2 linked regions of the Homo sapiens genome follow. Each later gene encodes a partner of the first gene's protein in a complex. Each region holds a gene or a part of one and is shown in the gene's direction. Other genes may lie near its edges.

What was found.
Region 2: TGFBRAP1 (region 1) and VPS8 share a complex: the UniProt entries of both Homo sapiens proteins name them as parts of the putative class C core vacuole/endosome tethering (CORVET) complex.

The regions. Positions count from the first base shown.
Region 1 is NC_000002.12:105,324,624-105,335,637, reverse strand, and holds the start of TGFBRAP1 (transforming growth factor-beta receptor-associated protein 1), read left to right. Parts: upstream 1-5,902; 5' UTR 5,903-6,013; intron 6,014-11,014. UniProt on the Homo sapiens protein: Plays a role in the TGF-beta/activin signaling pathway. It associates with inactive heteromeric TGF-beta and activin receptor complexes, mainly through the type II receptor, and is released upon activation of signaling.
Region 2 is NC_000003.12:184,805,894-184,816,625, forward strand, and holds the start of VPS8 (vacuolar protein sorting-associated protein 8 homolog), read left to right. Parts: upstream 1-6,272; 5' UTR 6,273-6,332; exon of another isoform or gene 6,333-6,393; intron 6,394-6,613; exon of another isoform or gene 6,614-6,896; intron 6,897-7,851; exon of another isoform or gene 7,852-7,974; intron 7,975-9,890; exon of another isoform or gene 9,891-10,732. UniProt on the Homo sapiens protein: Plays a role in vesicle-mediated protein trafficking of the endocytic membrane transport pathway.

The DNA.
Region 1 (11,014 bases):
TGGAGATTATGGAGATTATAAACACACTTGACACAGTAAGTGTTTAAGAACTGGTAGCTGATTTTTACAAAGTTATGGGTCATAGAAGGCAGTTTAGAGAAAAGGGCAGGCTTTGGAGTAGCTCAGTTGTATTATAACCTTGGCTTCTTTACTCACCTAGGACATACATTCTCTCTTTAGCTGTAGCTTCCTCCCTTCTGAGATGGAAATTATAAGCCATCTCACAGTGTTGTGAGGATTGGAGCTCAAGTGTGTAAAATGCCTCCTCTGTGGGCTCTCCTTGGAGAGTTCTTGTATCCTATTGATTGTCATCAAAGGAAAAAAGTGGCAGGATGATGGCATAAGTGGGAAGAACCTTGAGTTTAATAGTCTGAAAAAGTGGTTACAGGTTCTTGCTATGCTTTTCCTCTCTGTGGTTTTCTGAACCCATCGCCTAACCTGAAGCCTTAAACTTCATCTGCAAAAATGTTTTGTGGCAGGTAAGATGTCTTTTTTTTCTTCCAGTACTTCCCAGTTTAAAACTAAGAGTACTTCCTTGCTTATAACTAATTCTATTAATATTATTCTAGGTGACTCTGAAGCAGAACTCTTGAGATGGAAGGATTGTCATCTGAGGAAAAAAAATCAAGATTAAGAGAGGAGGAACTAGAATGAGATTCACATACCGTCTCTCCTCCAAGGGAAGGAGAGAGTGGTGATGCCTGCCCACTCCTTCCTGGGCAGAACATTTGTAGCATGGAACATTGGAGAATTTGCAGTCTGCTGACTTTCTGATTTAGGAGGTTGATGGGGAGGCCTTATAATTTGCATTTCTAACAAGTTCTGAGGTGATGCTTCAAGTATGTCCAGGCAGAAGGGCTGCCTCACAGAGAATTCTGCCATACCACATGGGAATTGAAGTCACAGACATCTCTAACCCTCAAGCCTGAAACCAAAAGACTGAAAACCAACACTACAGTGGACAAAGAACATCTCTGAACTTGTGTGGGGACCAGTGACACAAGGACCTAAGGTCTCTCTCTTCTCATCTTGGCACTTCAGAAGTCTCCCCAATCTTGACAAAGCCCTGGAGAAAGGGCCGGGCCTCCCGTTGATAAGAATATCACTGCAGATAAATGGAGGTTTCAAATTGAAAGAAAGGAGGAGGGCCTCCTGTTGATAAGATTATTGTCACTGCAGGTAAATGGAGGCTTCAAATAGAAATACATTTCAGTTACAGAAAAAAAAATTATCTTTGTTACACATTTGAGTTTGCAGGCCTAAGGTTACTCCCGCTACACTATCATCTGTAACCATAACGCACTCAACATTTTAAGCTAACTATAAGGATTGTTGCTTCACTCAAAGATCCTGAGGTTTTATTCACTAACATTTTTATTTGGTGACTATAGTTGACAAGAACAAAGCTGTGGGGAACCAACAAACACTGCAATGCCTGGCATTGTCACCTCACTAGATTGTGAGTTCCTCTGGGACAGGGTCCGTACATTTTCTTAGAATCCCTCACTTAGCCATTAGCCTGCACAGTGCTTGTACTTAGTAAGTGCTCAGTAAATGTTTGTGGAATGAATGCATGATGAACAAAATATATACTGAGGACTCTTGGTGTTGATTCTTGTTGATAATGTAATAGTTAAGATATGTTATAAATATGTTATAAATATTGTATCAAAATATTGTATCAAAAATATACTTGAACAGGCTGGGCGTGGTGGCTCACACTTGTAATCCCAGCCCTTTAGGAGGCTGAGGTGGGTGGATCACTTGAGGTCAGGAGTTCGAGACCAGACTGGCCAACATGGTAAAACCCCATCTCCACTAAAAAAAAACAAAAGTTAACTGGGCATGGTTGTGGGTGACTGTAATCCCAGCTACTCAGGAGGCTGAGGCAGGAGAATCGCTTGAACCCGGGAGGTAGAGGTTGCAGTGAACCAAGATCGCACCACTGCACTCTAGGGGACAGAGCAAGACGCCTCAAAAAAAAAAATGTATATATATAGTATATACATACACATGAGCATAAAGGAGCTTCAATGTGAAGGTAATAATTTAAGCAACATTTCACATTTTGGACCTGTGTTGTTAGCTATTTAGAACAGTTAAACTACTAGCTTGCTTTTAAATCCATTGTCTTAGTCATTTCAAGTTGTTATAACAAAATACCATACACTGAGTAGTTTATAAACAACAGAATGCATTTCTCTCAATTCTGGAGGCTGGGAAGTCCAAGATCAAGGTGCTGGCAGATTGTGTGTAGTGAAGATCCATTCATCAGAGATGGCACCTTCTCGTTGTGTCCTCACATGGTGGATGGGGCAACAGGCTCTCTTAGGCTTCTTTTATAAGGGCAATAATTCATGAAGTTTCCACACTTATGATAGAATTACCTCCTAGAGGCCCCACTTCCAAATACCATCACCTTGAGGGTTAGGTTTCAACATACAAATTTTGGAGGTACACATTCAGATGATGACAGCACTCATAGGTTACCTTTCATCTTTGGGTTCTCAGTGCCTGCTACAACAGCACAAGAACAGTAAGTGTGTGCTGAATGAATACAGATGAATGAACCTTTCCCCATCCTCAGATACTTCCCAACTGAGCTCCACTATCACCAAACTTCTAGAGCACATTATTTTTTGCCTTATGATCTCGTTAGGTGGGTTTTTCTTGCACATACCACACTAATCCAGTGGTCCTCAAAATTGTGTGCCCATTAGAATCCTCTGGAGGGGTTGTAAAAATAGTTTGCTGGGTCCTAACCCCAGAGTTTCTGATTTAGGAGGTTTGGGATGGGGACACCAAAATTTGCATTTCTAACAAGTCCAGAGGTGATGTTGATACTGCTGGCTACCAACTCTACCTTATAAACCATTGCCCATTAAACTCTTGAGGGTAGAGACTGTCTTCCTCATTTCAGTATCTGCTGAAGCCTCTGGCATAGTACCTGGCACATAGGAGCTGCTAAAGAAGTAGTTGATTGAACAATAGTTCAAAAAAGTTTATTTTACTGAAGCTAGATTACAAGTATATGAATGTGTGTGTATATGTGATTAAATGAGCTATTACATGTAAAAGCTCTTAAAACATGGCACATAGTAAGCTGTTGCTTTAAAAAAAATAAAAAATGTAACCTTTCTTTGCTTATATTCTAAAATGACACCAACCATCCTACATGTGTGCTCTTAAATAGCTTATATATTAGAATAATGGAATCTTAGTACTAAAGGCTGGATGTGGTTGCTCATGCCTGTAATCCCAGCACCTTGGGAAGCCGAGGTGGGTGGATCACTTGAGGTCAGGAGTTCAAGACCAACCTGTTCAATATGGTAAAACCCTGTCTCTACTAAAAATACAAAAATTAGCCCTGCGTGGTGGTGCATGCCTGTAGTCGCAGATACTTAGGAGGCTGAGGCAGGAGAATTGCTTGAACCTGGGAGGTAGAGGTTGCAGTGAGCTGAGAAGATTGTACCACTGCACTCCAGCCTGGGCAAAAGAGACTGTCTAAAAAAAAAAAAAAAAAGTAATCTAGTTAATATTTCAATATTGAGCATCAAGAATTTTTAAAAATTGGTTGAGTGTTTTCTACATGCAGAAAGATACAGCAGAGAGCATAGACACAATCCTTGCCCTCCCAAGCGTATACCCAGCGAGAAAGTGAGAAGCACAGAGTATGTGTAAGCATAAAAATACTAAGTTTTGAGAGTAGACAGCAACTATGAAAATATTCAGTTATATCGATGCAACTCAGTCTTCATTAATTGTTCTCATCGGAGCACATCTTTTTCACATTCTGTAAAGTAACGCTCGGTATGGGCCCAAGGAATATTTAATAAATATTTAAAAATGAAGTTAATAATTGTTTTGAAAGCCATATGGTTGATATTTCTTCTTAAATGTAACCAATAGAAACAACATAAGGAATTTGGCCTGTGCATATATTTGCACATTTATGGTACAGGCATTTACATGGAGGTGCCTGTCATTTGTGACACAGACTTCTCATCAAGTTTCAGAAGGAACAGATGTTTCTAGATGGAATAATATGGAGCTTGCCATTGTAAGAATCCTGTAATAAATCCTTTCATAAAATAAATATATCTGAATTATCTCTTGTTATACATTTTCACTCCTGGATCATCTAAAGTAGAACACAAAGATTGTTCATAAACTATTCATTCAAAACAACTTTATATAAAAAGAATTACTGTTGCTGAATTCTGGATTCTTATTGTTGCTCTTTCTTACTAGCATGGGGTTTGGGACAAGTCACCTTTTTAAATTTTTTTATTTATATTTTCCTAAGTGAATTAACACAGGAAGTCATTCACCTTTCTTTGCCTCAAAGAATTAAATTTATTCTTTGACGCTATTAAGTAAATTAATAGCGTCTACTTCATTGCTCAGTCACTAGCAGTTTCTGAAGTCACTGTCTGGCAGTCAGTAGATATCACCTCTGTAACTAGTCTTGTGCAGCTCTCTGTGATGTGATCTGGTAGAGGACTAAGATACAAAAGCACAAGGGTGAATTCTAGGACCACCTGAGCCAGTGATTAGTTGATGACAAGTCACATAGTCTCTGTGAGCCTGGGTAAAATGAAGAGACTGGATTTGCTCTTGTACCTTCCCAATCCCTGGCTCCACTAGCTGTTGGCCACCTTAGACTTGAAGGTCCATTCACTGCTGCTTGCCCTTGAAGCTCAATTGCTGGTCAGAGCTTTACACTCCTGGGAAGCCAGTCCCCTACCTGGAGGCTGAGCCGGTGACACTGGTTCCACTGGGTCACAGCTGAAGCACCACTGGGGATGGGGCATTTATGTGGCCATGAGTCACACTAGGGTAGGGGTAGAGGGCAAGTCACAGGAAGATTGTTGGGTTTTTTTTTTTTTTTTTTTTTTTTGGCCAGTTTCTTTTCTTTCTTTTTTTATCCCTTTGAAACAGAAGACCATGGCGTACAATCTGGTATCTGCCTTCAGGGTTGGGATAATATCTTTGTTTTACAATACTCAGAGTGGCTGGAAGAAAGCTGAGGCCACAGGTCACTAGCAGGTTCTAAAGTCTGAAAATCCCTGGGAAAATTTGACTTTTTATATGCTAATAATTGAGTACTGACAACTCTGGAGGGAGCTTTCCAATTCTTCCGTCATGAAAGTGGACTTTGTATACTAAAGAGGGGTTCATGGATTCATGGTAACCTACAATTCTTCCTTGCGGCCTGAACCAAAGGAATAGCAGCTACAGTTGGGTTTTCCTAAAAGGAGTAAGATAGTCCCAGGCCTCCCTTCTCAAATAAGTGTATCAAGCAGGTGGACTCTGCCAGTCGGGGGTCCCGGTCAATCCCTAGGGCCCTGGGGCGCCATGGGCCTCGTGGGAGGGCTGCGCATCCCAACCATGCCTTCGTCTCCTGGTGGGGCACCGGCGGTACGTCCGATCCTCCAGCCCGCGTGGTCAGGCGGCCGCGGGCCCAAGCATTTCCCAGGGCCCAAGCATTTCATTCATTTATTCATTCACGCAGCAGGTATTTCCCGGGCGCCCTCCTCCTGTGTAGGTGACAGAAACTGGGTGGCGAGCGAGCCAGGCAAAGCCCGGCTTCCCTGAAGCTCCCCGCAGCGGCGGGGGCGGAGAAGAGACCTCAGCCCCGCGGGCTCGCACAGCTGGCGCGGACCACGCTCTCGCCCGGGGCCGGCGGCCTCAGCGCCCCCCGAATGAACACCTTCCGCCCGCTGGCCGCCCCGCGAGGCGGGCCGTGTCGTGGCCCCGGTGCACGGAGGGGGACGCCGAGGCCCGGAGCAGGGCCCGTCTCGGCCTGTGCTCGGAGCCAGGCGGCAGGGCCCGCGGGCCGGCGGGCGGCGCGGAGACGGCTGCGCTCCCGCCCTCCGCCAGCGCCTGGCGGCCGCCCCACGTGACGGGAAGCGGCGGCTGCGGGGTCGGGCCAGCCCAGGAGCCGCGGGCCGGAGCGGGGCGGCGGGGCCCCAGGCCGCGGGGCGGCGCGGGACGGCGGGCGCCGGCGCCGGTGAGTGAGGAGGGCGGCGGGGCGCGGGGTGCGGGGCTCAGGGCGCGGGGCGCGTGGGGCAGGAGGGCGGGGAGCAGGAGTGGGGGGTAGGCGGCGGGGCGGGGTGGAGGGCGAGCCCGTGCGTGTGCGCTGGGGCAGGTGTAGTGGGGGCTGGAACGCGGGGTGGGGGGAGCAAGTGGCTATACACTTGGGGGCAGGTGTGCGGGTGTGCGACTTGGTAGCTGTCCCTTGTGGGGGCCGGCTAGCCTGCTGGGGTGAGCAAATAAGTGTTCACGTGTGTGTGGGATGAAGTGTGCACGGGTGTGGGGTCAAGTGTGTATGTTGTGTGTGAGGAGTGCGTGTGTGTTTAGGGCAAGGGAAGACCTGAGAGACCTCGTCCTTGATTTGGGTTTTCCGGGGAGAAGGGCCAGGAAGGACTTGCACCTCCATCCCTGGTATGGAATGGTTTTGGCGCTGTGATTGAGGTTTCTGGGAGCTCTTTGGATTTGAGAGCTCAAATTCGGGTCACACTCAGGCCTGAATTGTCCTGATCTGGAGAGTAGGCAGGGGTGTGTTGGGGAGTAGGGAAAAGTGCTGTGCTGGGCTTCCTGGCCCCTGTTTTTAGCACCAGGTCAAGGGCTGGAAGCTGTCATCCCTGTGGAATTGTTTTCTTTCCATTGCCTTCTGGAGGTGCAGGTGCAAGTTAGTCCGCCTGCCTCCCTGTGTTAAGTGTTGATATCCTTAAACACGGAAGCTGTCCGGTTGTCTGCACCTGCCGTGGCTTCTACCCAAGGACTGTTGAGTGACCCTCAGGAAGCCTCCTACCTGGCTGCTAAAAATGGGGGCTCACAGATCACACAGCAGGCCTTACTGCACGTGGACTGCACGCGCAGCTGTGGTCAAAACATGTCTGAGCAGAGTTTAATCACTGATGAAGTGCTCATGGGCAAGCACCTTGTCTATCAGGAAGGAAGGCAGCTGCGGGTGTGATTGTGGTGGCAAGTTAAGGCACTGAGAAGGTGTGCAGGGAAGATCCTACTGCGTTGTGTGTGTTGGCTTGGTTGGAGTCAGGATGAACGAATGTAGAGGGACTGTGTGGTGGCTGCTACTCTCTCATGGTGGACATGCTTCTCTCTGTTGGTCAGCCGGAAGCTGGCAGACAACTGAGAGCTCGCAGTTCCATGGTCAGTCAGAAGGAACATTTGGTCAGCTGCTTCCTTTTCTTTTTCCTTCCATTTCTGCCAGCCGAGCAGCCTCAACAGTCATTGCAGCTGCTTCTGTGATGTGTAGCAAAACGCTGCCTGGAGTACTAGAAAGTCTACTGGCTGGAATCTGCTGGAACCTGTCCATAACTAGCCTGCCCCAGGTCATCTATGAAATGGGAGTGATGCTCTGTGGTGGTAATGAATGTGGAGTGTGGGTTCAAATCCTGCCTCTGCCATTTCCTGTGACCTTTGGGCAATTTGCTGGACATTCTGAGTCTCAAATTCCTCCATCAAAATAGGGATAATATTAGAAAAGGCACATGAATTCTAATAAGAAATTGTGCCTGGAAAGGATCCGGCACAGGGTCTGGCATTTAGTAGGTGCTCAATAAATTATTGCTGACAAATATAAATGAGGATGTAGAGCCAGGTCTCCCTCAGCTCTGAAAATATGTAGTTTTATGTTTTGAGTAATTGTTAACCTAACAAATGATTTACTCTGGAGTTAGACTTGTGGGTTCTGAATTCCAATTTGCTATGTGCATCAAGGTTTGCATTACACAATTGAATTGGGTGAGAGGTGAGGTGCCACTGTTAGCCTTCATTCACTCTGCCTTTTCTTCTACACTCATGATTGTGCATGGCAGTCCTCTTGTCATAGCATTGGAGGCAGAGCGTTTTCACCACTGCAGGAATCCCAGGACCAATCTAACCTCAGCTTAAACCCTCCAGAGACAGGGATTTGTAAAGGGCCCATTCTTCATTTAGGCAGCTCCAGTTGAGGAGTTTTAAAAGCATAGAGCTCACTATTTTAAAAATGCTATATTTTCTTTTTGTTGTTGTCTTCTGGGTGGTTTTTTTGCTGTTGTTTTTGAGACAGGGTCTTGCTCTGTCACCCAGGCTGGAGTGCAGTGGTGTGACCATGGCTCACTGCAGTCTTGATCTCCCAGACTCAAGGGATCCTCCCACCTCAGCCTCTCAAGTAGCTGGGACCACAGGCTCGCACTACCACACCCAGATAATTTAAAAAATTTTTTTTGTAGAGATAGGGGTCTCCCTGTGTTGCCCAGGCTGTTCTCAAACTCCTGGCCTCAAGCAATCCTCCTGTCTTGGCCTCCCAAAGTGCTGGGATTACAGACCTGAGCCGCTGCGCCCAGCCAAAAAACTTGCTGTATTTTCTGGGTCTGATATGCAGCTAACATTTCTGTTAGGAAAAAAAAAATGAAGTTATTTGGCTTATTCCTTCATGCTAATATTACAAATTTGTGATCTTTTAAGAAAACTTGAAGAAATTTTACTTAATGGGTTAAGTGTCTTCATCTTGGTCTGAATCCAGCCCTCATTAGAAATACATTAAAGTAGTCATTTGTGGCAGCCAGGTGTTTGGATACTGCCGAATAATTTGGCTCAGACTTTACAACTCATCTCTGTAGCAAACCTGACTCGTTTTTCTTTATTTAAAAAAATAAATACCTACTAAATGAATGTAGAGTAACAACTTAATTTGGTGCTACCCCAAATGACTTTAAGTGCCTCATGAAAAGTGAATTATGAAATCTTGCAGATGATTTGAAATCAAGATCTTTTCTTGATAGTCAAGTAACTGCTGTTGAAAAAGTTAAAGATTTAAGGAAAAAATCACATATTTAAAGATGACAACTGACTGGATATTATGGACTATCAAGTCCTGTAGGTACTCAATAATTTTTTTTTTCTTTTTTTGAGACAGGGTCTCACCCTGTCACCCAGGCTACAGTACAGTGTCGTGTTCTCGGCTCACTGCAACCTCCATCTTCCAGGCTCAAGTGATCCTTCCACTTTAGCCTCCCAAGTAGTTGGGGCTATAGGCACATGCCACCATGCCCGGCTAATTTTTGTATTCTTCTATAGAGACAGAGTTTCACCATGTTGCCCAGGTTGGTTTTGAACTCCTAAGCTCAAGCAATCCATCTGCCTCGGCCTCCCGAAGTGCTGGGATTATAGGCATGAGCCACTGCTCCTGGCCAGTACTCGATAATTTTTTGTGGCTGTTTGAAGGTTCAGTATTGAGGAAGATGTTATGAAGTAAATGCCATATTTCTATTCTGCTCTTCTTCTACCTCCCACTTCTCTTCCTAAACCCTTTTAATTCTAACTGCTGATGGTACTCTTATAGGATGTATATTATATATATGTACATACACACACACATACACCCTTATGCATATGTATGTATACACACACCATATATAGTATGTGTATATATGTGTGTGTATATAAATATATGTTTATATGTATTTAAATAATTTTGATTAGTATTGCCCAGTAAAAAGGATACCAACTATGAATAGTTACATATATTAAATATACATCATGATAATATTAAGATGACAAGTTAGATATTAGACCTTAACTGTCTTTTTTTAATCCTCTTTTTTTAGATACTCTTGCAGATTATCAGAGCAGGTTCATTGCACTATAACTAATCTTGCTGTCTCTGTTGCATGAGTGCAAAAGATAACATAAAATGGTTGTCAAGCAGTATCTTCATTTTCAAAGGGGGGAAAAGTTGACTTTTGTACAAGCCAGTAAATTTATTGTTGATTCCTGACAAATTTCAAGATTGAGTCATTCAACAGATGGCTGTGGGACTTAGAGAAGAACACGGGACCAGCATGGGGTGCAGCTCAGGAAAAGCAGTTGCTGTCACATAAATGTGTATCCTGTTTTGGTAGATTACTATGTTAGTAGAGAACTGTGTCAACATACTATTCTGTGTCTGAATTTCAGCAAGCAGATAGAGCCACAGGATTCCTCTTCTAGACTCACGGTGGGGAAGCAATAGCAAAGACTCCTCAGGAACTGCAGCAGCATGCCACTCTAAGTACCATAGTGGCCTCCTGCTGAGAGTTGTTGCTTTGTTCAGAACTGAATTCTAGGAGAGGATCTGAAATCATACTTGTTCCCCTCAATCAATAAGAATATGGCCTTGGAGTCACGAACAAAAACTAGGGTCAAAGCCCTGTTTCATCACCTTGTAGCCAGGTAACCTTGAGCAAGCCACCTAAGATCTCTGTATCTCCATAATAATGTCCACCTCTCAGCGTCAAGGTAAGAACGAAAGGATAATGCTATATCGAGTGTGCAGTATCCCACCAAACCCAGTTTTGGGGCTCTCCTGAGGGGGCAGTCAGGGTGTCAGCCAGGGCTGCAGCCTATGGGTGCCATCCATCATCCAGGCTTGGGGCAGCATTGGCCTTGGGAGCCAGTGTGGCATCTGATTAAGGATGTGTGCTTTGGAGCTGACTACCTGGGTTGGAATCCCAGCTCTCTACTTACCAGCATGACTCTTCCACCTTTCAAGACCTCCATTCCCTTCCTCTTCATCCAGAAGTAGCTGGAGAATGGTATAGGAGAAGCACACAGCCCAGTCCAAATTTCTGTTTTATAGAGAACACAGGCCCAGACAAAGCCTCTTAGTGAGTTGCCTAAGATCATCAGGAAGTGACCAAGCAACAAGCAGAGCTCAGGATTCCCAGATTAATGTCGGGAATGTCTGCTATGCAGCGTGCCCACATTTACCACAGTTCACTGCCGGGGTGGCCCAGTTTCGCTCTGGGGCCTTGATCCTTATTACTGAGGGGCTGTGCTCCTTCCCAGCCTGAGTGTCCACCCTCAGAGTCCCCCACTTAACTGCTTCTCCCAAAGCTCATGGTATATCCAATTCTGAACACAGCAGGAGTCAGCTCACATTCACCCCAACCCAATCTCAGCCCCTCTGTCAGGGGAAAGACTCCAAATGAGTAAAACTCCCAAACTCTCCTCTGAAATGCATTTT
Region 2 (10,732 bases), on another chromosome or scaffold:
ATTTCTGGAATTGTGAAATTATTAGAAAGAGAAATTTTTTTTTCTAAGGCTGAAAGAAAGAGGGATGAGGGAAGGCATTAGAATGAATGAGTGAATGAAAAGTGAAAGCCAGCCTGCTGTTGAGAATACAAAACGGTAGAGAATATAGATACTATTCCTTTTACGACTTTGGGAAGCAATTTATGATTCCTGAGTCCCTCTTTTTTTGTTGCTATTCTAGTAATGTTTGGATATAAAACATGATACTTGCTATAGGTCAGGAGAATTTGGCCTTTTGAGCTTCCATAATTTATTTCTATCATGGATCTTGTAAATGTTGTGTTTTTTAGTGTTGTCTTCCTGGCTAGGGATCAGGTACTGGCTTTCATTCATATTTGTGTTCCTGGCAACAAGCACTGTGCCTGGCACATAATAGGTACTCAGTCAATGCTGGAGTATGCTGTAAGGGAGATCTTTATTCCTCGATCCTGACTTTGGAAGCATTCTCAGGTTCATGCATGTGACACCTCCTTCACACACAAATATAGGCTGTCATTGCAGAATTTGTTCATTTATGTCACACAAATTTATGGAGCTCCTACTCTGTGCCAGGTACTATTCTAGATGCAAGGAGTACAACCATAAACGAACTAGACAAAAGTCTCTGCTCTCATAGTGCTTATGTACTGGTGGGGAAGACAGAAACTTAACAGATAAATAAGTACACATATGGTATGTTGGATGATGACAAGTACTATAGAAAAAAATAAAGCATAGGAGAGTGGTGACAGAATGTGGGGAGGATGAGAGTGGCTAGGGAAGACTTCCCGGAGGTGACTGTGGCAGGAGCCAGCTATACTCCCTAGAATTCTGTGCTCCTCTACACTCCCTGGCCTCTGTCGTAATAAAGCAGGGCTGGGTGGCTGGTGCTGGCCAATGGACTGTGAGCCGAAGGGGCGCATGTCACTTTCAGGCCAAGGCAATTCAGAGTCAGTGGGCTTTCTGCACCCCTCTCTTCTGCCTCAGAGCATTTAGAGGCCATGTGTTTAGAAAACAGTGTCACCAGATGGAAAGAAACTGGGTTCCCGAGAACTGAGTGGAGAAGAGAACTGCTCCTCATCTTCCTTGTATTTATTGCCCTGACTAATGCAGTGACATTTGAGCAAAGCCCTGAAGAAGGTGAGTGAGTGAGCCAAGTGGTTATCTTGAGAGAGGAACACCCCAGGCAGAGGGAACATGAGAGTGACAGCTGGACTAGGTTGAATCACTTACAGAGAACCAATTTTATGCCTCTCCAGCCTGCTTGGACATTTTGACTCAATGAAGTTTGCATATGTATACATGCAAACACAAAACTAAAGACTCCTGATTTTTAGATTAAAAACCCTGTACACCAGGTTTTGGTTTTGGCTTTTAAAATCATTATTATTTTCATTATTATTTATTATTTTTTTGAGACAGAGTCTCGCTCTGTTACCCAGGCTGGAGTGCAGTAGCACGATCTCGACTCACTTCAACCTCCGCCTCCCAGGTTCAAGCGATTCTCCTGCCTCAGCCTCCTGAGTAGCTGGGATTGCAGGTGCCACCACGCCGGGCTAATTTTTGTATTTTTAGTAGAGACGGGCTTTCGCCATGTTGGCCAGGCTGGTCTCAAACTCCTGACCTCAGGTGATCCATCCTCCTTGGCCTACCAAAGTTCTGGGATTACAGGCGTGAGCCACCTCATCCGGCCAAATTATTTTAATAAGCTTGATTCTTTAGAGTGATTTTAGGTTCACAGCAAAATTGAGAGGAAGGTACAGAGACTTCTCATACACTGCCTGCCCCAGGCACAGATGGTCTCCTCCACCAGAGTGCTACATTAGTTACAGCTGATGGACCTGCACTGACACATCATTACATCATTATCATCCACATCTACAGTTTACCTTAGGGTTCATTCTCGGTGTTGTACATTTTGTGGCTTTGGACAAATTTATGATGTTTCCACTATTATAGCATCATACAGAATCATTTCACTGCCCTAAAAGTTCTCTGTGCTCCAACAAGTTCCCTTTTTAAAAAAGGAAAAGAGGCCAGTTTATTTTGTGATTGTGAGCAAAAAAGAAATGACAAAGGCATCCATCTCCTATTCTCTGCCTTTTGCTCTCAGGAACAGACATTTTTTTCCTTCAGAAGAGATGTGGCTTATTCTAGATGCAGGGGTAATAGTGATGTCTGGGTCGAGGTCTGCATCCTTCACTCTTGGGGAGAGCTGGAGGCAATAGAGCCGGTGTAAGGACACCATCCAACTGTGGCAGCCCTCAGTGGCGCCCTCTTCTAGCTCCTGTGCACCCCGCAGGCCAGCCCTCACTGCTTCCCAAGGCTCTGAGAGCTCACATGCAACCTTTTTTCTCATTGGCTTAATTTCTCTTAAGACCACTTCACAAAAGCTCCATTGTAATCACTATCTGCTCAACTGCTTTCTCTTACTTACAAGTTTAGTAAACACAAACATTCTTCTGTCTAGGTCTTACTGACCTGTAGAAAGTTAACTGATGAATGGTACATTTTAAGTCAAAACATACTCTCTGAACCCCAAACATAGTAGAGCTTTTGGTACTCTTTCCAAAAAGAAGAAAATCATTACACTATTCTATATGGAAAAATTCCAATATATAAGCTGATGCAAATTTTGCCTTGCAAAAAAATCTCAATACCTGTGTTTAGATAAGTACAAATGAAACTTTAAGAAATTCCAGTATCACTGTTTCTCAAACTTGGATATCGTTCAGATCCTTTGTAAGGGGAAAAGATTCTCACAGATATCTAGAGTTAGCTTATAATTTTTTATAATGTTGCATACATATATGTGTATGTATATATGCAAACACAAAACTAAGAGCTCCTGATTTTTATAGATTTTATGCATCTATAAAACTAAAAAAATAAATTGAATACAAACAAAACTACCAAATGAGGAAATGCAAATCTACAATTTTGATTTAATATAAGGAATGATATTTTGCTGGAGCCAATATTCACATGAATATTGTAATACTGTGTGATGACTCAATTCTCCCACTACCCTTTGTTAGTGCAGCACACCACAATATAATTTGCCTATAACTTGGTGTGACCACATCATTTATTTTAAACATCATTCTCTGTTTTTTTTTCCTCACAAGTCTGTAACAATTCACTCAGTACTATTTGCAATCACAAATCCAGCAGTGAAACTGCATTCCCAGAATAATTATAAAGGGCTGATAAATTTATATAGATATTCCACTCCAATAGTAATCCCATACAGGTTAAAATGAGAGACCATTTCATCTATCATATTGGCAAATCTTTTTTTTTTTAAGATAAAATAAATGCCAGTGGGGGTGCGTGTGATGGGCACCACTGAGAGCTTCTGGTGAGAATGAAAACTGGCCTGACATTTCTGGAAGGCAGTTTGACCACGGGTATTCACAGACTTAAGAGTTTTCAAAGCCTTTGAATCAGTAATTCCACTTATAGGTTGCTAGCCTAAGGAAGGAAATAATTTTAAAATGTGGGCAAAGATAATGTGTAAGGATATTCATGGCAATGTTCTTGTTAGCAGTAAAAAATAGGAACTCCTGTATATGTCCAAAAATAGTGGAATAATGAAATACATGAAACTATATCATTAATAATTATGTAGCCATGACAAATAATATTTGTGAACAATTTTAGTGATGGTGGATAGTGCTCAAGATATAATAGTGAAAAAAAGAGGATGGATTATTAACTATATATCCTATAAATATATAGAATACACAACTAAATATTCTATGCAGTTCTATTATGTCACAAATGTAAATATACAAAGAAAAAGATCCAACGGATAAGCCAAAACTATAAGTGCCTTTTTCTGGGATGTGGGTAATTTCTGCTTTATTTTAAAATATTTCCTGAATTTTCCAAGTTTTCTACAATAAGCACACATTTTTTTTTATTATTATTAAGGCAAACAGCCCTGGAAAGGATAGCATTTGAGATTACTTCCTGCTGTGAACAGAGGTACATAAAAGGGCTGTTACTTTGGAGAGGTCTCAGAGTCAGTCTGGACCATCCTAAAATATTCTTTATTATAAGTTGAAATCTGCCTCTCTGCAACGTCCATACACAGGTCGTAGGCTTGCTTTCTTTCTACAGCTATTCAGAATAAGTCTATGAGTGTTGCAGAGATATTTCAAAAGGGTCAGTTTTTTAAAGTAATGGCAAAAACCGCAATTACTTGTGTACCAACCTAATAGCTACCTTTCCACTGCTCACCCCTATGACCCTGCTCTCCCCTACTTCTGCTAATTTCTTTTCCTCTGGATACTTTCAAAAGTTCTCTGTCACACAGGCTTTCTGGTCTCACCAGCTTGCTTATCCTTCTGTAGACAGTCTCTAGTTTAATAGCTTTACTAGAAAAATGTGATATTCAGAACCAAAGGCCGGTTTCCAGCCTTCTAAAGCACAGCTATCATCTTGCCACTCCTCTGCTCGAGTTCCTCTGGAGACTCTCACCAGAAGAGCAGAACACCCCAGCTTAGCGTGCAATGTCTTCCTGGATCTGGTCCTAGCCTTTCCAGCCTCATAGCCCACCACATCTCTAATACACACTACACCAGTGTCTTCAAACTATGGGTTGCTCTGCATCACTGAGTACTGAAATGAATTCAGTAACCAGCACTTAAAAAAAGAGAATAGAATAGAAAATACCAAGTTGCATTGTACACTCTAAGGGCAATTACTGTTTCAGCATATCTATCTATCTATCTATCTATCTATCTATCTATCTATAATGCACACTCACACATATGCGCATACTGTGTGTGTTTTTATACTAGGCCATGGCTGAAATGTATCTTTTTTTTTTTTTGAGACGGAGTCTCACTCTGTTACCCAGGCTGGAGTGCAATGGCACAATCTTGGCTCACTGCTGCAACCTCTGCCTCCTGGGTTCAAGCAATTCTCCTGCCTCAGCCTCCCGAGTAGCTGGGACCACAGGTGCATGCCACCACACCTGGCTAATTTTTGTATTTTTAGTAGAGACAGGGTTTCTCCATGTTGGTCAGGCTGGTCTTGAACTCCTGACCACCTGCCTCAGCCTCCCAAAGTGCTGGGATTGCAGGCATGAGTCACCGCACCTGGCCTGAAATGTATTTCTTACTGTGAGGGATGATTAAAAGAAGGTTGAAAGCCACTGGCCACACCACGGCTACATCAGGCCAATAACTAGTTCCCAAACTTGCTTTGTACTGCCTTTGATCCCACCCTTCCCTCAGCTAGGCATTCTCCCTGCTCTCTGCTACTGAAATCCTTCAAGGCCCTGACAAGATACCACATCCTTCCTTGAGTGTTTCACCCTTTCCCCCTGTCTGTGCGAAAATGGTGGTTCAATGTCTTTCTTTATATTACTCAAAACAGCCTGCCTTGTATTTTGTTATGTCTGTACACTGAATTCTTAGAAAATAAATACCTGGAGGACAGGGCAACACCTTCGGGTCTTCTGAAGGCCCAGAAGTCTAGTGAACCTAGCTGATGCTCAAAAATGTCTGCCCAACCGAATATTTTCTGTATCTCCTTCCAAGAGTATCTTCTGGTGTTCTTCCTCCTGTTTTCTTGACCTATATAGCCCCCAGCAGGCCTAAAATCTGTGTCCTGGGGCTAATGTTACGTACAGTGATGACTCTAGAAACCAGTCTGTTCTGAAAGCTTTCACCTTTCTTCAGGAGCGATAAGAGAAATAAGCATACGTTTTTGTTCATTTTTCAGATGTTTCCTTTATTTGAGACTATGTTTCTCCTGTATTTTTGGTGTTAAGATGTATTTTGGGGAGCAACACTGATGATATATTACAAGATAATAGTTGGTATTTTAGTATGTGTGTGCCTATTGTACTTATTTGACACAATAAATAGGCAATTCTGAGTTCATCTTTTAAAAAAAAAAAAAAGTTAAAAAAAATTTACTGGTTGCAAACTCCAAAAGGCAGGGAATCAACTTCCCTTCTGGGCTGGCTGCAAGTAAGTTCACTTTCTTAAAGGAGGAGCTTTCTCCTCTCACCTCAAGGACTGTTATTTATTTGTCTGCGCTACTCTTTCGACGTTTCCATTCTCTTGGTCCTCAAGATGTGAATCACCCATTTTTTCCGTAGGGGGGAAGACGGCGTATCTCTGGCCCTTTAAATAGGGGCGTGGTGAAGAGGCGCGGACCGCCCAGGAGGGGGAGCAGTGCGAGGAGGAAAGCGGAAGCGCTGCCCGCAGTGGTAGGTAGTGCGCGTGCGTGAGGCTAGAGCAGTGGGTGCGGTCACGTGGGCCGGCGGTCCACGGCCGGAATGGCAGCAAGCTCAGGTAACGAGTTTCCAGAGAGCGGGCCCGTGGAAGGAGACAGGATTGAGGGGCCGTATTCAGGGTAGGAGGAGAGCGCGCGACAGGTCTCTGAGCCTCGGCGTCTCCTCCCCGCGCGACAGCGGCGGGACCTCGGGGAGCGAACAGAGCAGCCCCTGACGGGCTAACCGGACCCGAGCCACGGGCCGGGCGGGGTTGATTCTCGAGTGGAGGGGCGTGTCGTACGTTGGCCCGGAACTGGGTCGGGCAATTTCCACTTACTGGTTCCAAATGAATGTGAAAATTCAAATGGGCTTAAGTAAAAAGGGATTTATTGGCTCCAAACCTGGAAGGGGCTGAGGTATCACTAAATCCAGTGACTCCGGTGATGTATTTGTGTATCTCTCCCTTTCTGCAAAGGGCCAGTAACCCCTCAGTTCCCTATCTACTTTGCGACTATAATTGCAAGCCTCATTCTGTCCTGTTACAGTCGTGCGGCAATTAGGCTGAGGGACTGGCGCGCCCGCTCCCCCGACTGTGAGCCTAGGCGGCGGGTGTCATGCCCCTCCCCACTCCCGGGCGGAACAGGTGTGTAGCCGGTCTGTCGGGCCTGGGAAACAGGTGTGGACCCCTTTAGCCTCCAGGGACTGATATCAAGGTGCCTGAGCCTGAGGCTTAGATGGGGTGTCCACCTCTTAGGATCGGTGCGCACCCTGTGAGGCTGGTTCCAGTTTGTCTCCGCGTGCAAGTTGTGCACCAGAGTGAGGGCAGCAGGGTGAAAGGTGGGCCTCTGAAGTTCGAGGCTACTCCTGTGCCTTGGCCAGTTCTTTGTGCTTGGCATCTGGGGAAGGAGGGAAACAGCTGCTCAGAGTGTCTGGGTGTACAAAATGGGGGTGCTTTACAGGAGGATAGGGTGGGAGGAGGTAGGATCGGTGAGAGGTTCCATGGCCGTGGGTTATCAGGAATAGCTAGCTGGGGAGCCTTCTTTAAATAAGCAGGCCCCCTCCACTTCTTAGATTCTTGTTAGAATGAATAGGAAGGCTTCTGGCCTCTGCACCATCCACCCTCTACCATACTCTACTTTCCCCTACTGAAAAACCCCAAAACCCAAGCAAAACAAGCATGGATGTTAGCTTGTGGTGCTAAACCTTACTCCAAATGTCTGCATTTGGGAGACAATTACATGTTAATTGTCTGTGTATGTCTATGTCTGCCTGTGTGGGTTTGAGGTATATCTAATATAAATGTGGATGGAGAATCTGCATATGTTTGTGTAAGACGTGGGTTTGCTCATGGTTAAATTTAAGCACAGAATAGGTATTGAATCCTCTGGCAATAGCTGGCCTGTTCCATAGAATATGCAATAAAGATAAATGGAAAAAAAATTCGTTGAACTACTGGGCTTTATATGGTCAAAGAGGCATTTGTGAGAAAATTCTTTCCAGAGCTCTAACAGAGTAATATGTTGATTTTTTCTTTATATTTAATATATTTGCTTCGTATCTGGACCATTGTCAGCAGATGGATGTTTTCTGTCTTCCAGAATATTGGGACATGTTGGTGATTCTTAGCTGTATCTCACTATTCCATTGACATTTCAACCAGTGTGACACAAAATGTCAGTTATGTATGTGAATGAGAAGTAAGATCTTTTGAATTTAATGAAGTATGTTTAACTTTGGATCTATTGATAGCTTTCATAGAGTTTAGATCGTATGTTCTCTTGATCCACAGCTGTAGGTGTCATCGGTACATAGTGGTAAGATCAAACTGTTGTATTCTTAACTGAATCTTGAATGAATATTTGACTTATCTTCACGCTGTATGACATTATTAAATGTGTTCTGTGTTTTAGCAAGGAAATATAGCTTTGCGTTGGATTTTTCACTGTTATGAATTTCTTAGGTTTACTGTAATAGCAATTATACTTTTTTAGTCAAAGATATTTCTGTTGCAAGTGACAGAAAATTCAAATGGGCTTAAGCTAAAAGGGATTTATTGGCTCCAAACCTGGAAGGGGCTGGGGTATCACTATATCACTAAATCCAGTGACTCCAGTGATGGAGTACTTGTGTCTCTCTCCCTTTCTGCAAAGGACCAGTAACCCCCAGTTCCCTATCTCCTCTGCAACTGTAATTGCAAGCCTCATTCTTCCTGTTACAGTCATGGGACAGTTAGGGGATATGTTCTGAGAAATGTGTGGTTAGGCAAATTTTGTCATTGTGCATGCATCATAGTGTACTTACACAAACCTAGATGGTGTAGTCTGCTACACACCTAGACTATGTGGGATGGCCTGTTGCTGCTAGGCTATAAACCAGCACAGCATGTTACTGTACTGAATACTGTAGGTGGTTGTAACACAATGGCCAAGTATTTGTATATCTAAACATAGAAAAGGTACAGTAAAAATACAGTTTAAAAGATTGAAAAATGTGAACCTGTGTGGGGCACTTACCATGGATGGAGTTTGCAGGACTGGAAGTTGCTGTGGGTGAGGCAGTGAGTAGTGAGTGAGTGTGAAGGCCTAGGACATTATTGTACACTACTGTAGACTTTTTGAACACTGTACACTTAGGCTACACTGAATTTATTAAAAATTTTTTCTTTCTCCAATAATAAATTAACCTTAGCTTACTGTAATGTAACTTTTATGTTATAAACTTTTTAATTTAAAAAAGTTTTTAACTTCTTTGTGATAAAACTTAGCTTAAAATACAAACACATTGTACAATTAGCTGTACAAAAATATTTTCTTTATATCCTTATTCTGTTAGCTTTTTTCTATTTCAAAAAATTTTAATCTTTAAAAACGAAGACGCAAACACACACATTACTCTAGGCCTACACAGAGTCAGGAAGGTCCCGGTGGAATGTCTTTAGAGGCAGTAACACATAGGGAACTGTCATCTCTTATGATAACAGTGCCTTCTGGAATACCTCCTGAAGGACCTGCCTGAAACTGTTTTACAGCTAATTTTTAAATTTTTAAATAAGTGGATGAGTACACTCTAAAGATAAAAAGTATAGGATAGCAAATACATAAACTGGCACATAGTTTATTATCAAGTATTATGTACTGCACATAATTGTATGTGCTTAGCTTTTATACTACTGGCAGTGCGGTAGGTCTGTTTACATCAGCATCACCACAGACAGATGAGTAATGCATTCATTACAACAGCTGTGACATCACTGGGCTACAGGCATTTTTCTGCTCCATTATGTGTAATGTTAGGGGACCATGGTTGTATATGTGGTCTGTCGTTGACCCAAAACGTCTTTTTGGGGCACATGACTGTATATAAATGCATAAAAGATGTGACTGCAGATGACTCCTGTGTTATGCCATCCAAGATTAAGCACCCTAGAATAAAGAGAAATTCCAGAAGTACCTTGATTGGCCACATAGGACCCAAGAATGTGATGTGCCTACTCTTCTGCTCCGCTAGCTAGGCAGATAGGGTACTTGATTGGCAGCACCACCAAAATCACATGGTTGGAATGGAGGAGAAGCAGTTGCCCTCCAGGAAAGGTGGCAGTGGTGCTGGGGTGTTTTAACCTTTGTTTTTTCCGTTGCAGTTCAGCAAGACGCTTCCAGTTACTTCCTGCTCTTAAAAAAAAAAAAAAAAAAAGAATAAATCTCTCATGACTCTATATCCTTCTTGACACCTAACCAAGAGAAATTGAGATGACAGTTAATTGCAAATTAATAAAGAAGGCCATCATCTACTCAGCCTTTACCTAAGTGGAATCCTGTCTTTTGCGCATTTAACTTACAAGAATTTACCTGCATCAGTCAGTTATGTGAAGAAGAAAAGGGAATATATTTCAGCGTACACAAGGCCCTTGTGCTTTTTAGGAGGAGTTCTTTGGAGCTGAAGTGGGTCTGAGAAGAGACATTCTCATGATAGTGGAGACAGTATTATAGAAGCTGGAAGTGATCATTTTTCTCTGTTATTTATTTCACTTATTACCTCACACACATATTGATATAAAACTGATCAATAAAGTTAGAATTTCTACATTATCTAGATATTTGTAGACTTCGTTCATATTATTGTTTTGTATATTGTGATAGGGGATTAGATTTTTCTTTTCTAGGCTGGAGCTGATTGTCTGACAATTCATAGCAGTAACTTAGCACTCACTGTATACAGGAAGGTCTTAGGCACTGTTCCTTCCCCTTACTTTTCTTTTTAACATTTTTTAATCTGTATGTACTTATGATCACTCTCCTCATTTAGACATTCACCAACAACAGAAAGAGAAACAGAGGGTTGGGCTTTTTCGTCGTGGCAGTTCTGGCACTGTGAGCTACAATTACCTAAATGTGCCTTCTTGGAAAGAAATTCCAGGGTCAAGTAAAGCAGCCCATCCCAGTATATAGTAATGTTTCTCTAAATAGGGTCTGTATCTAAATG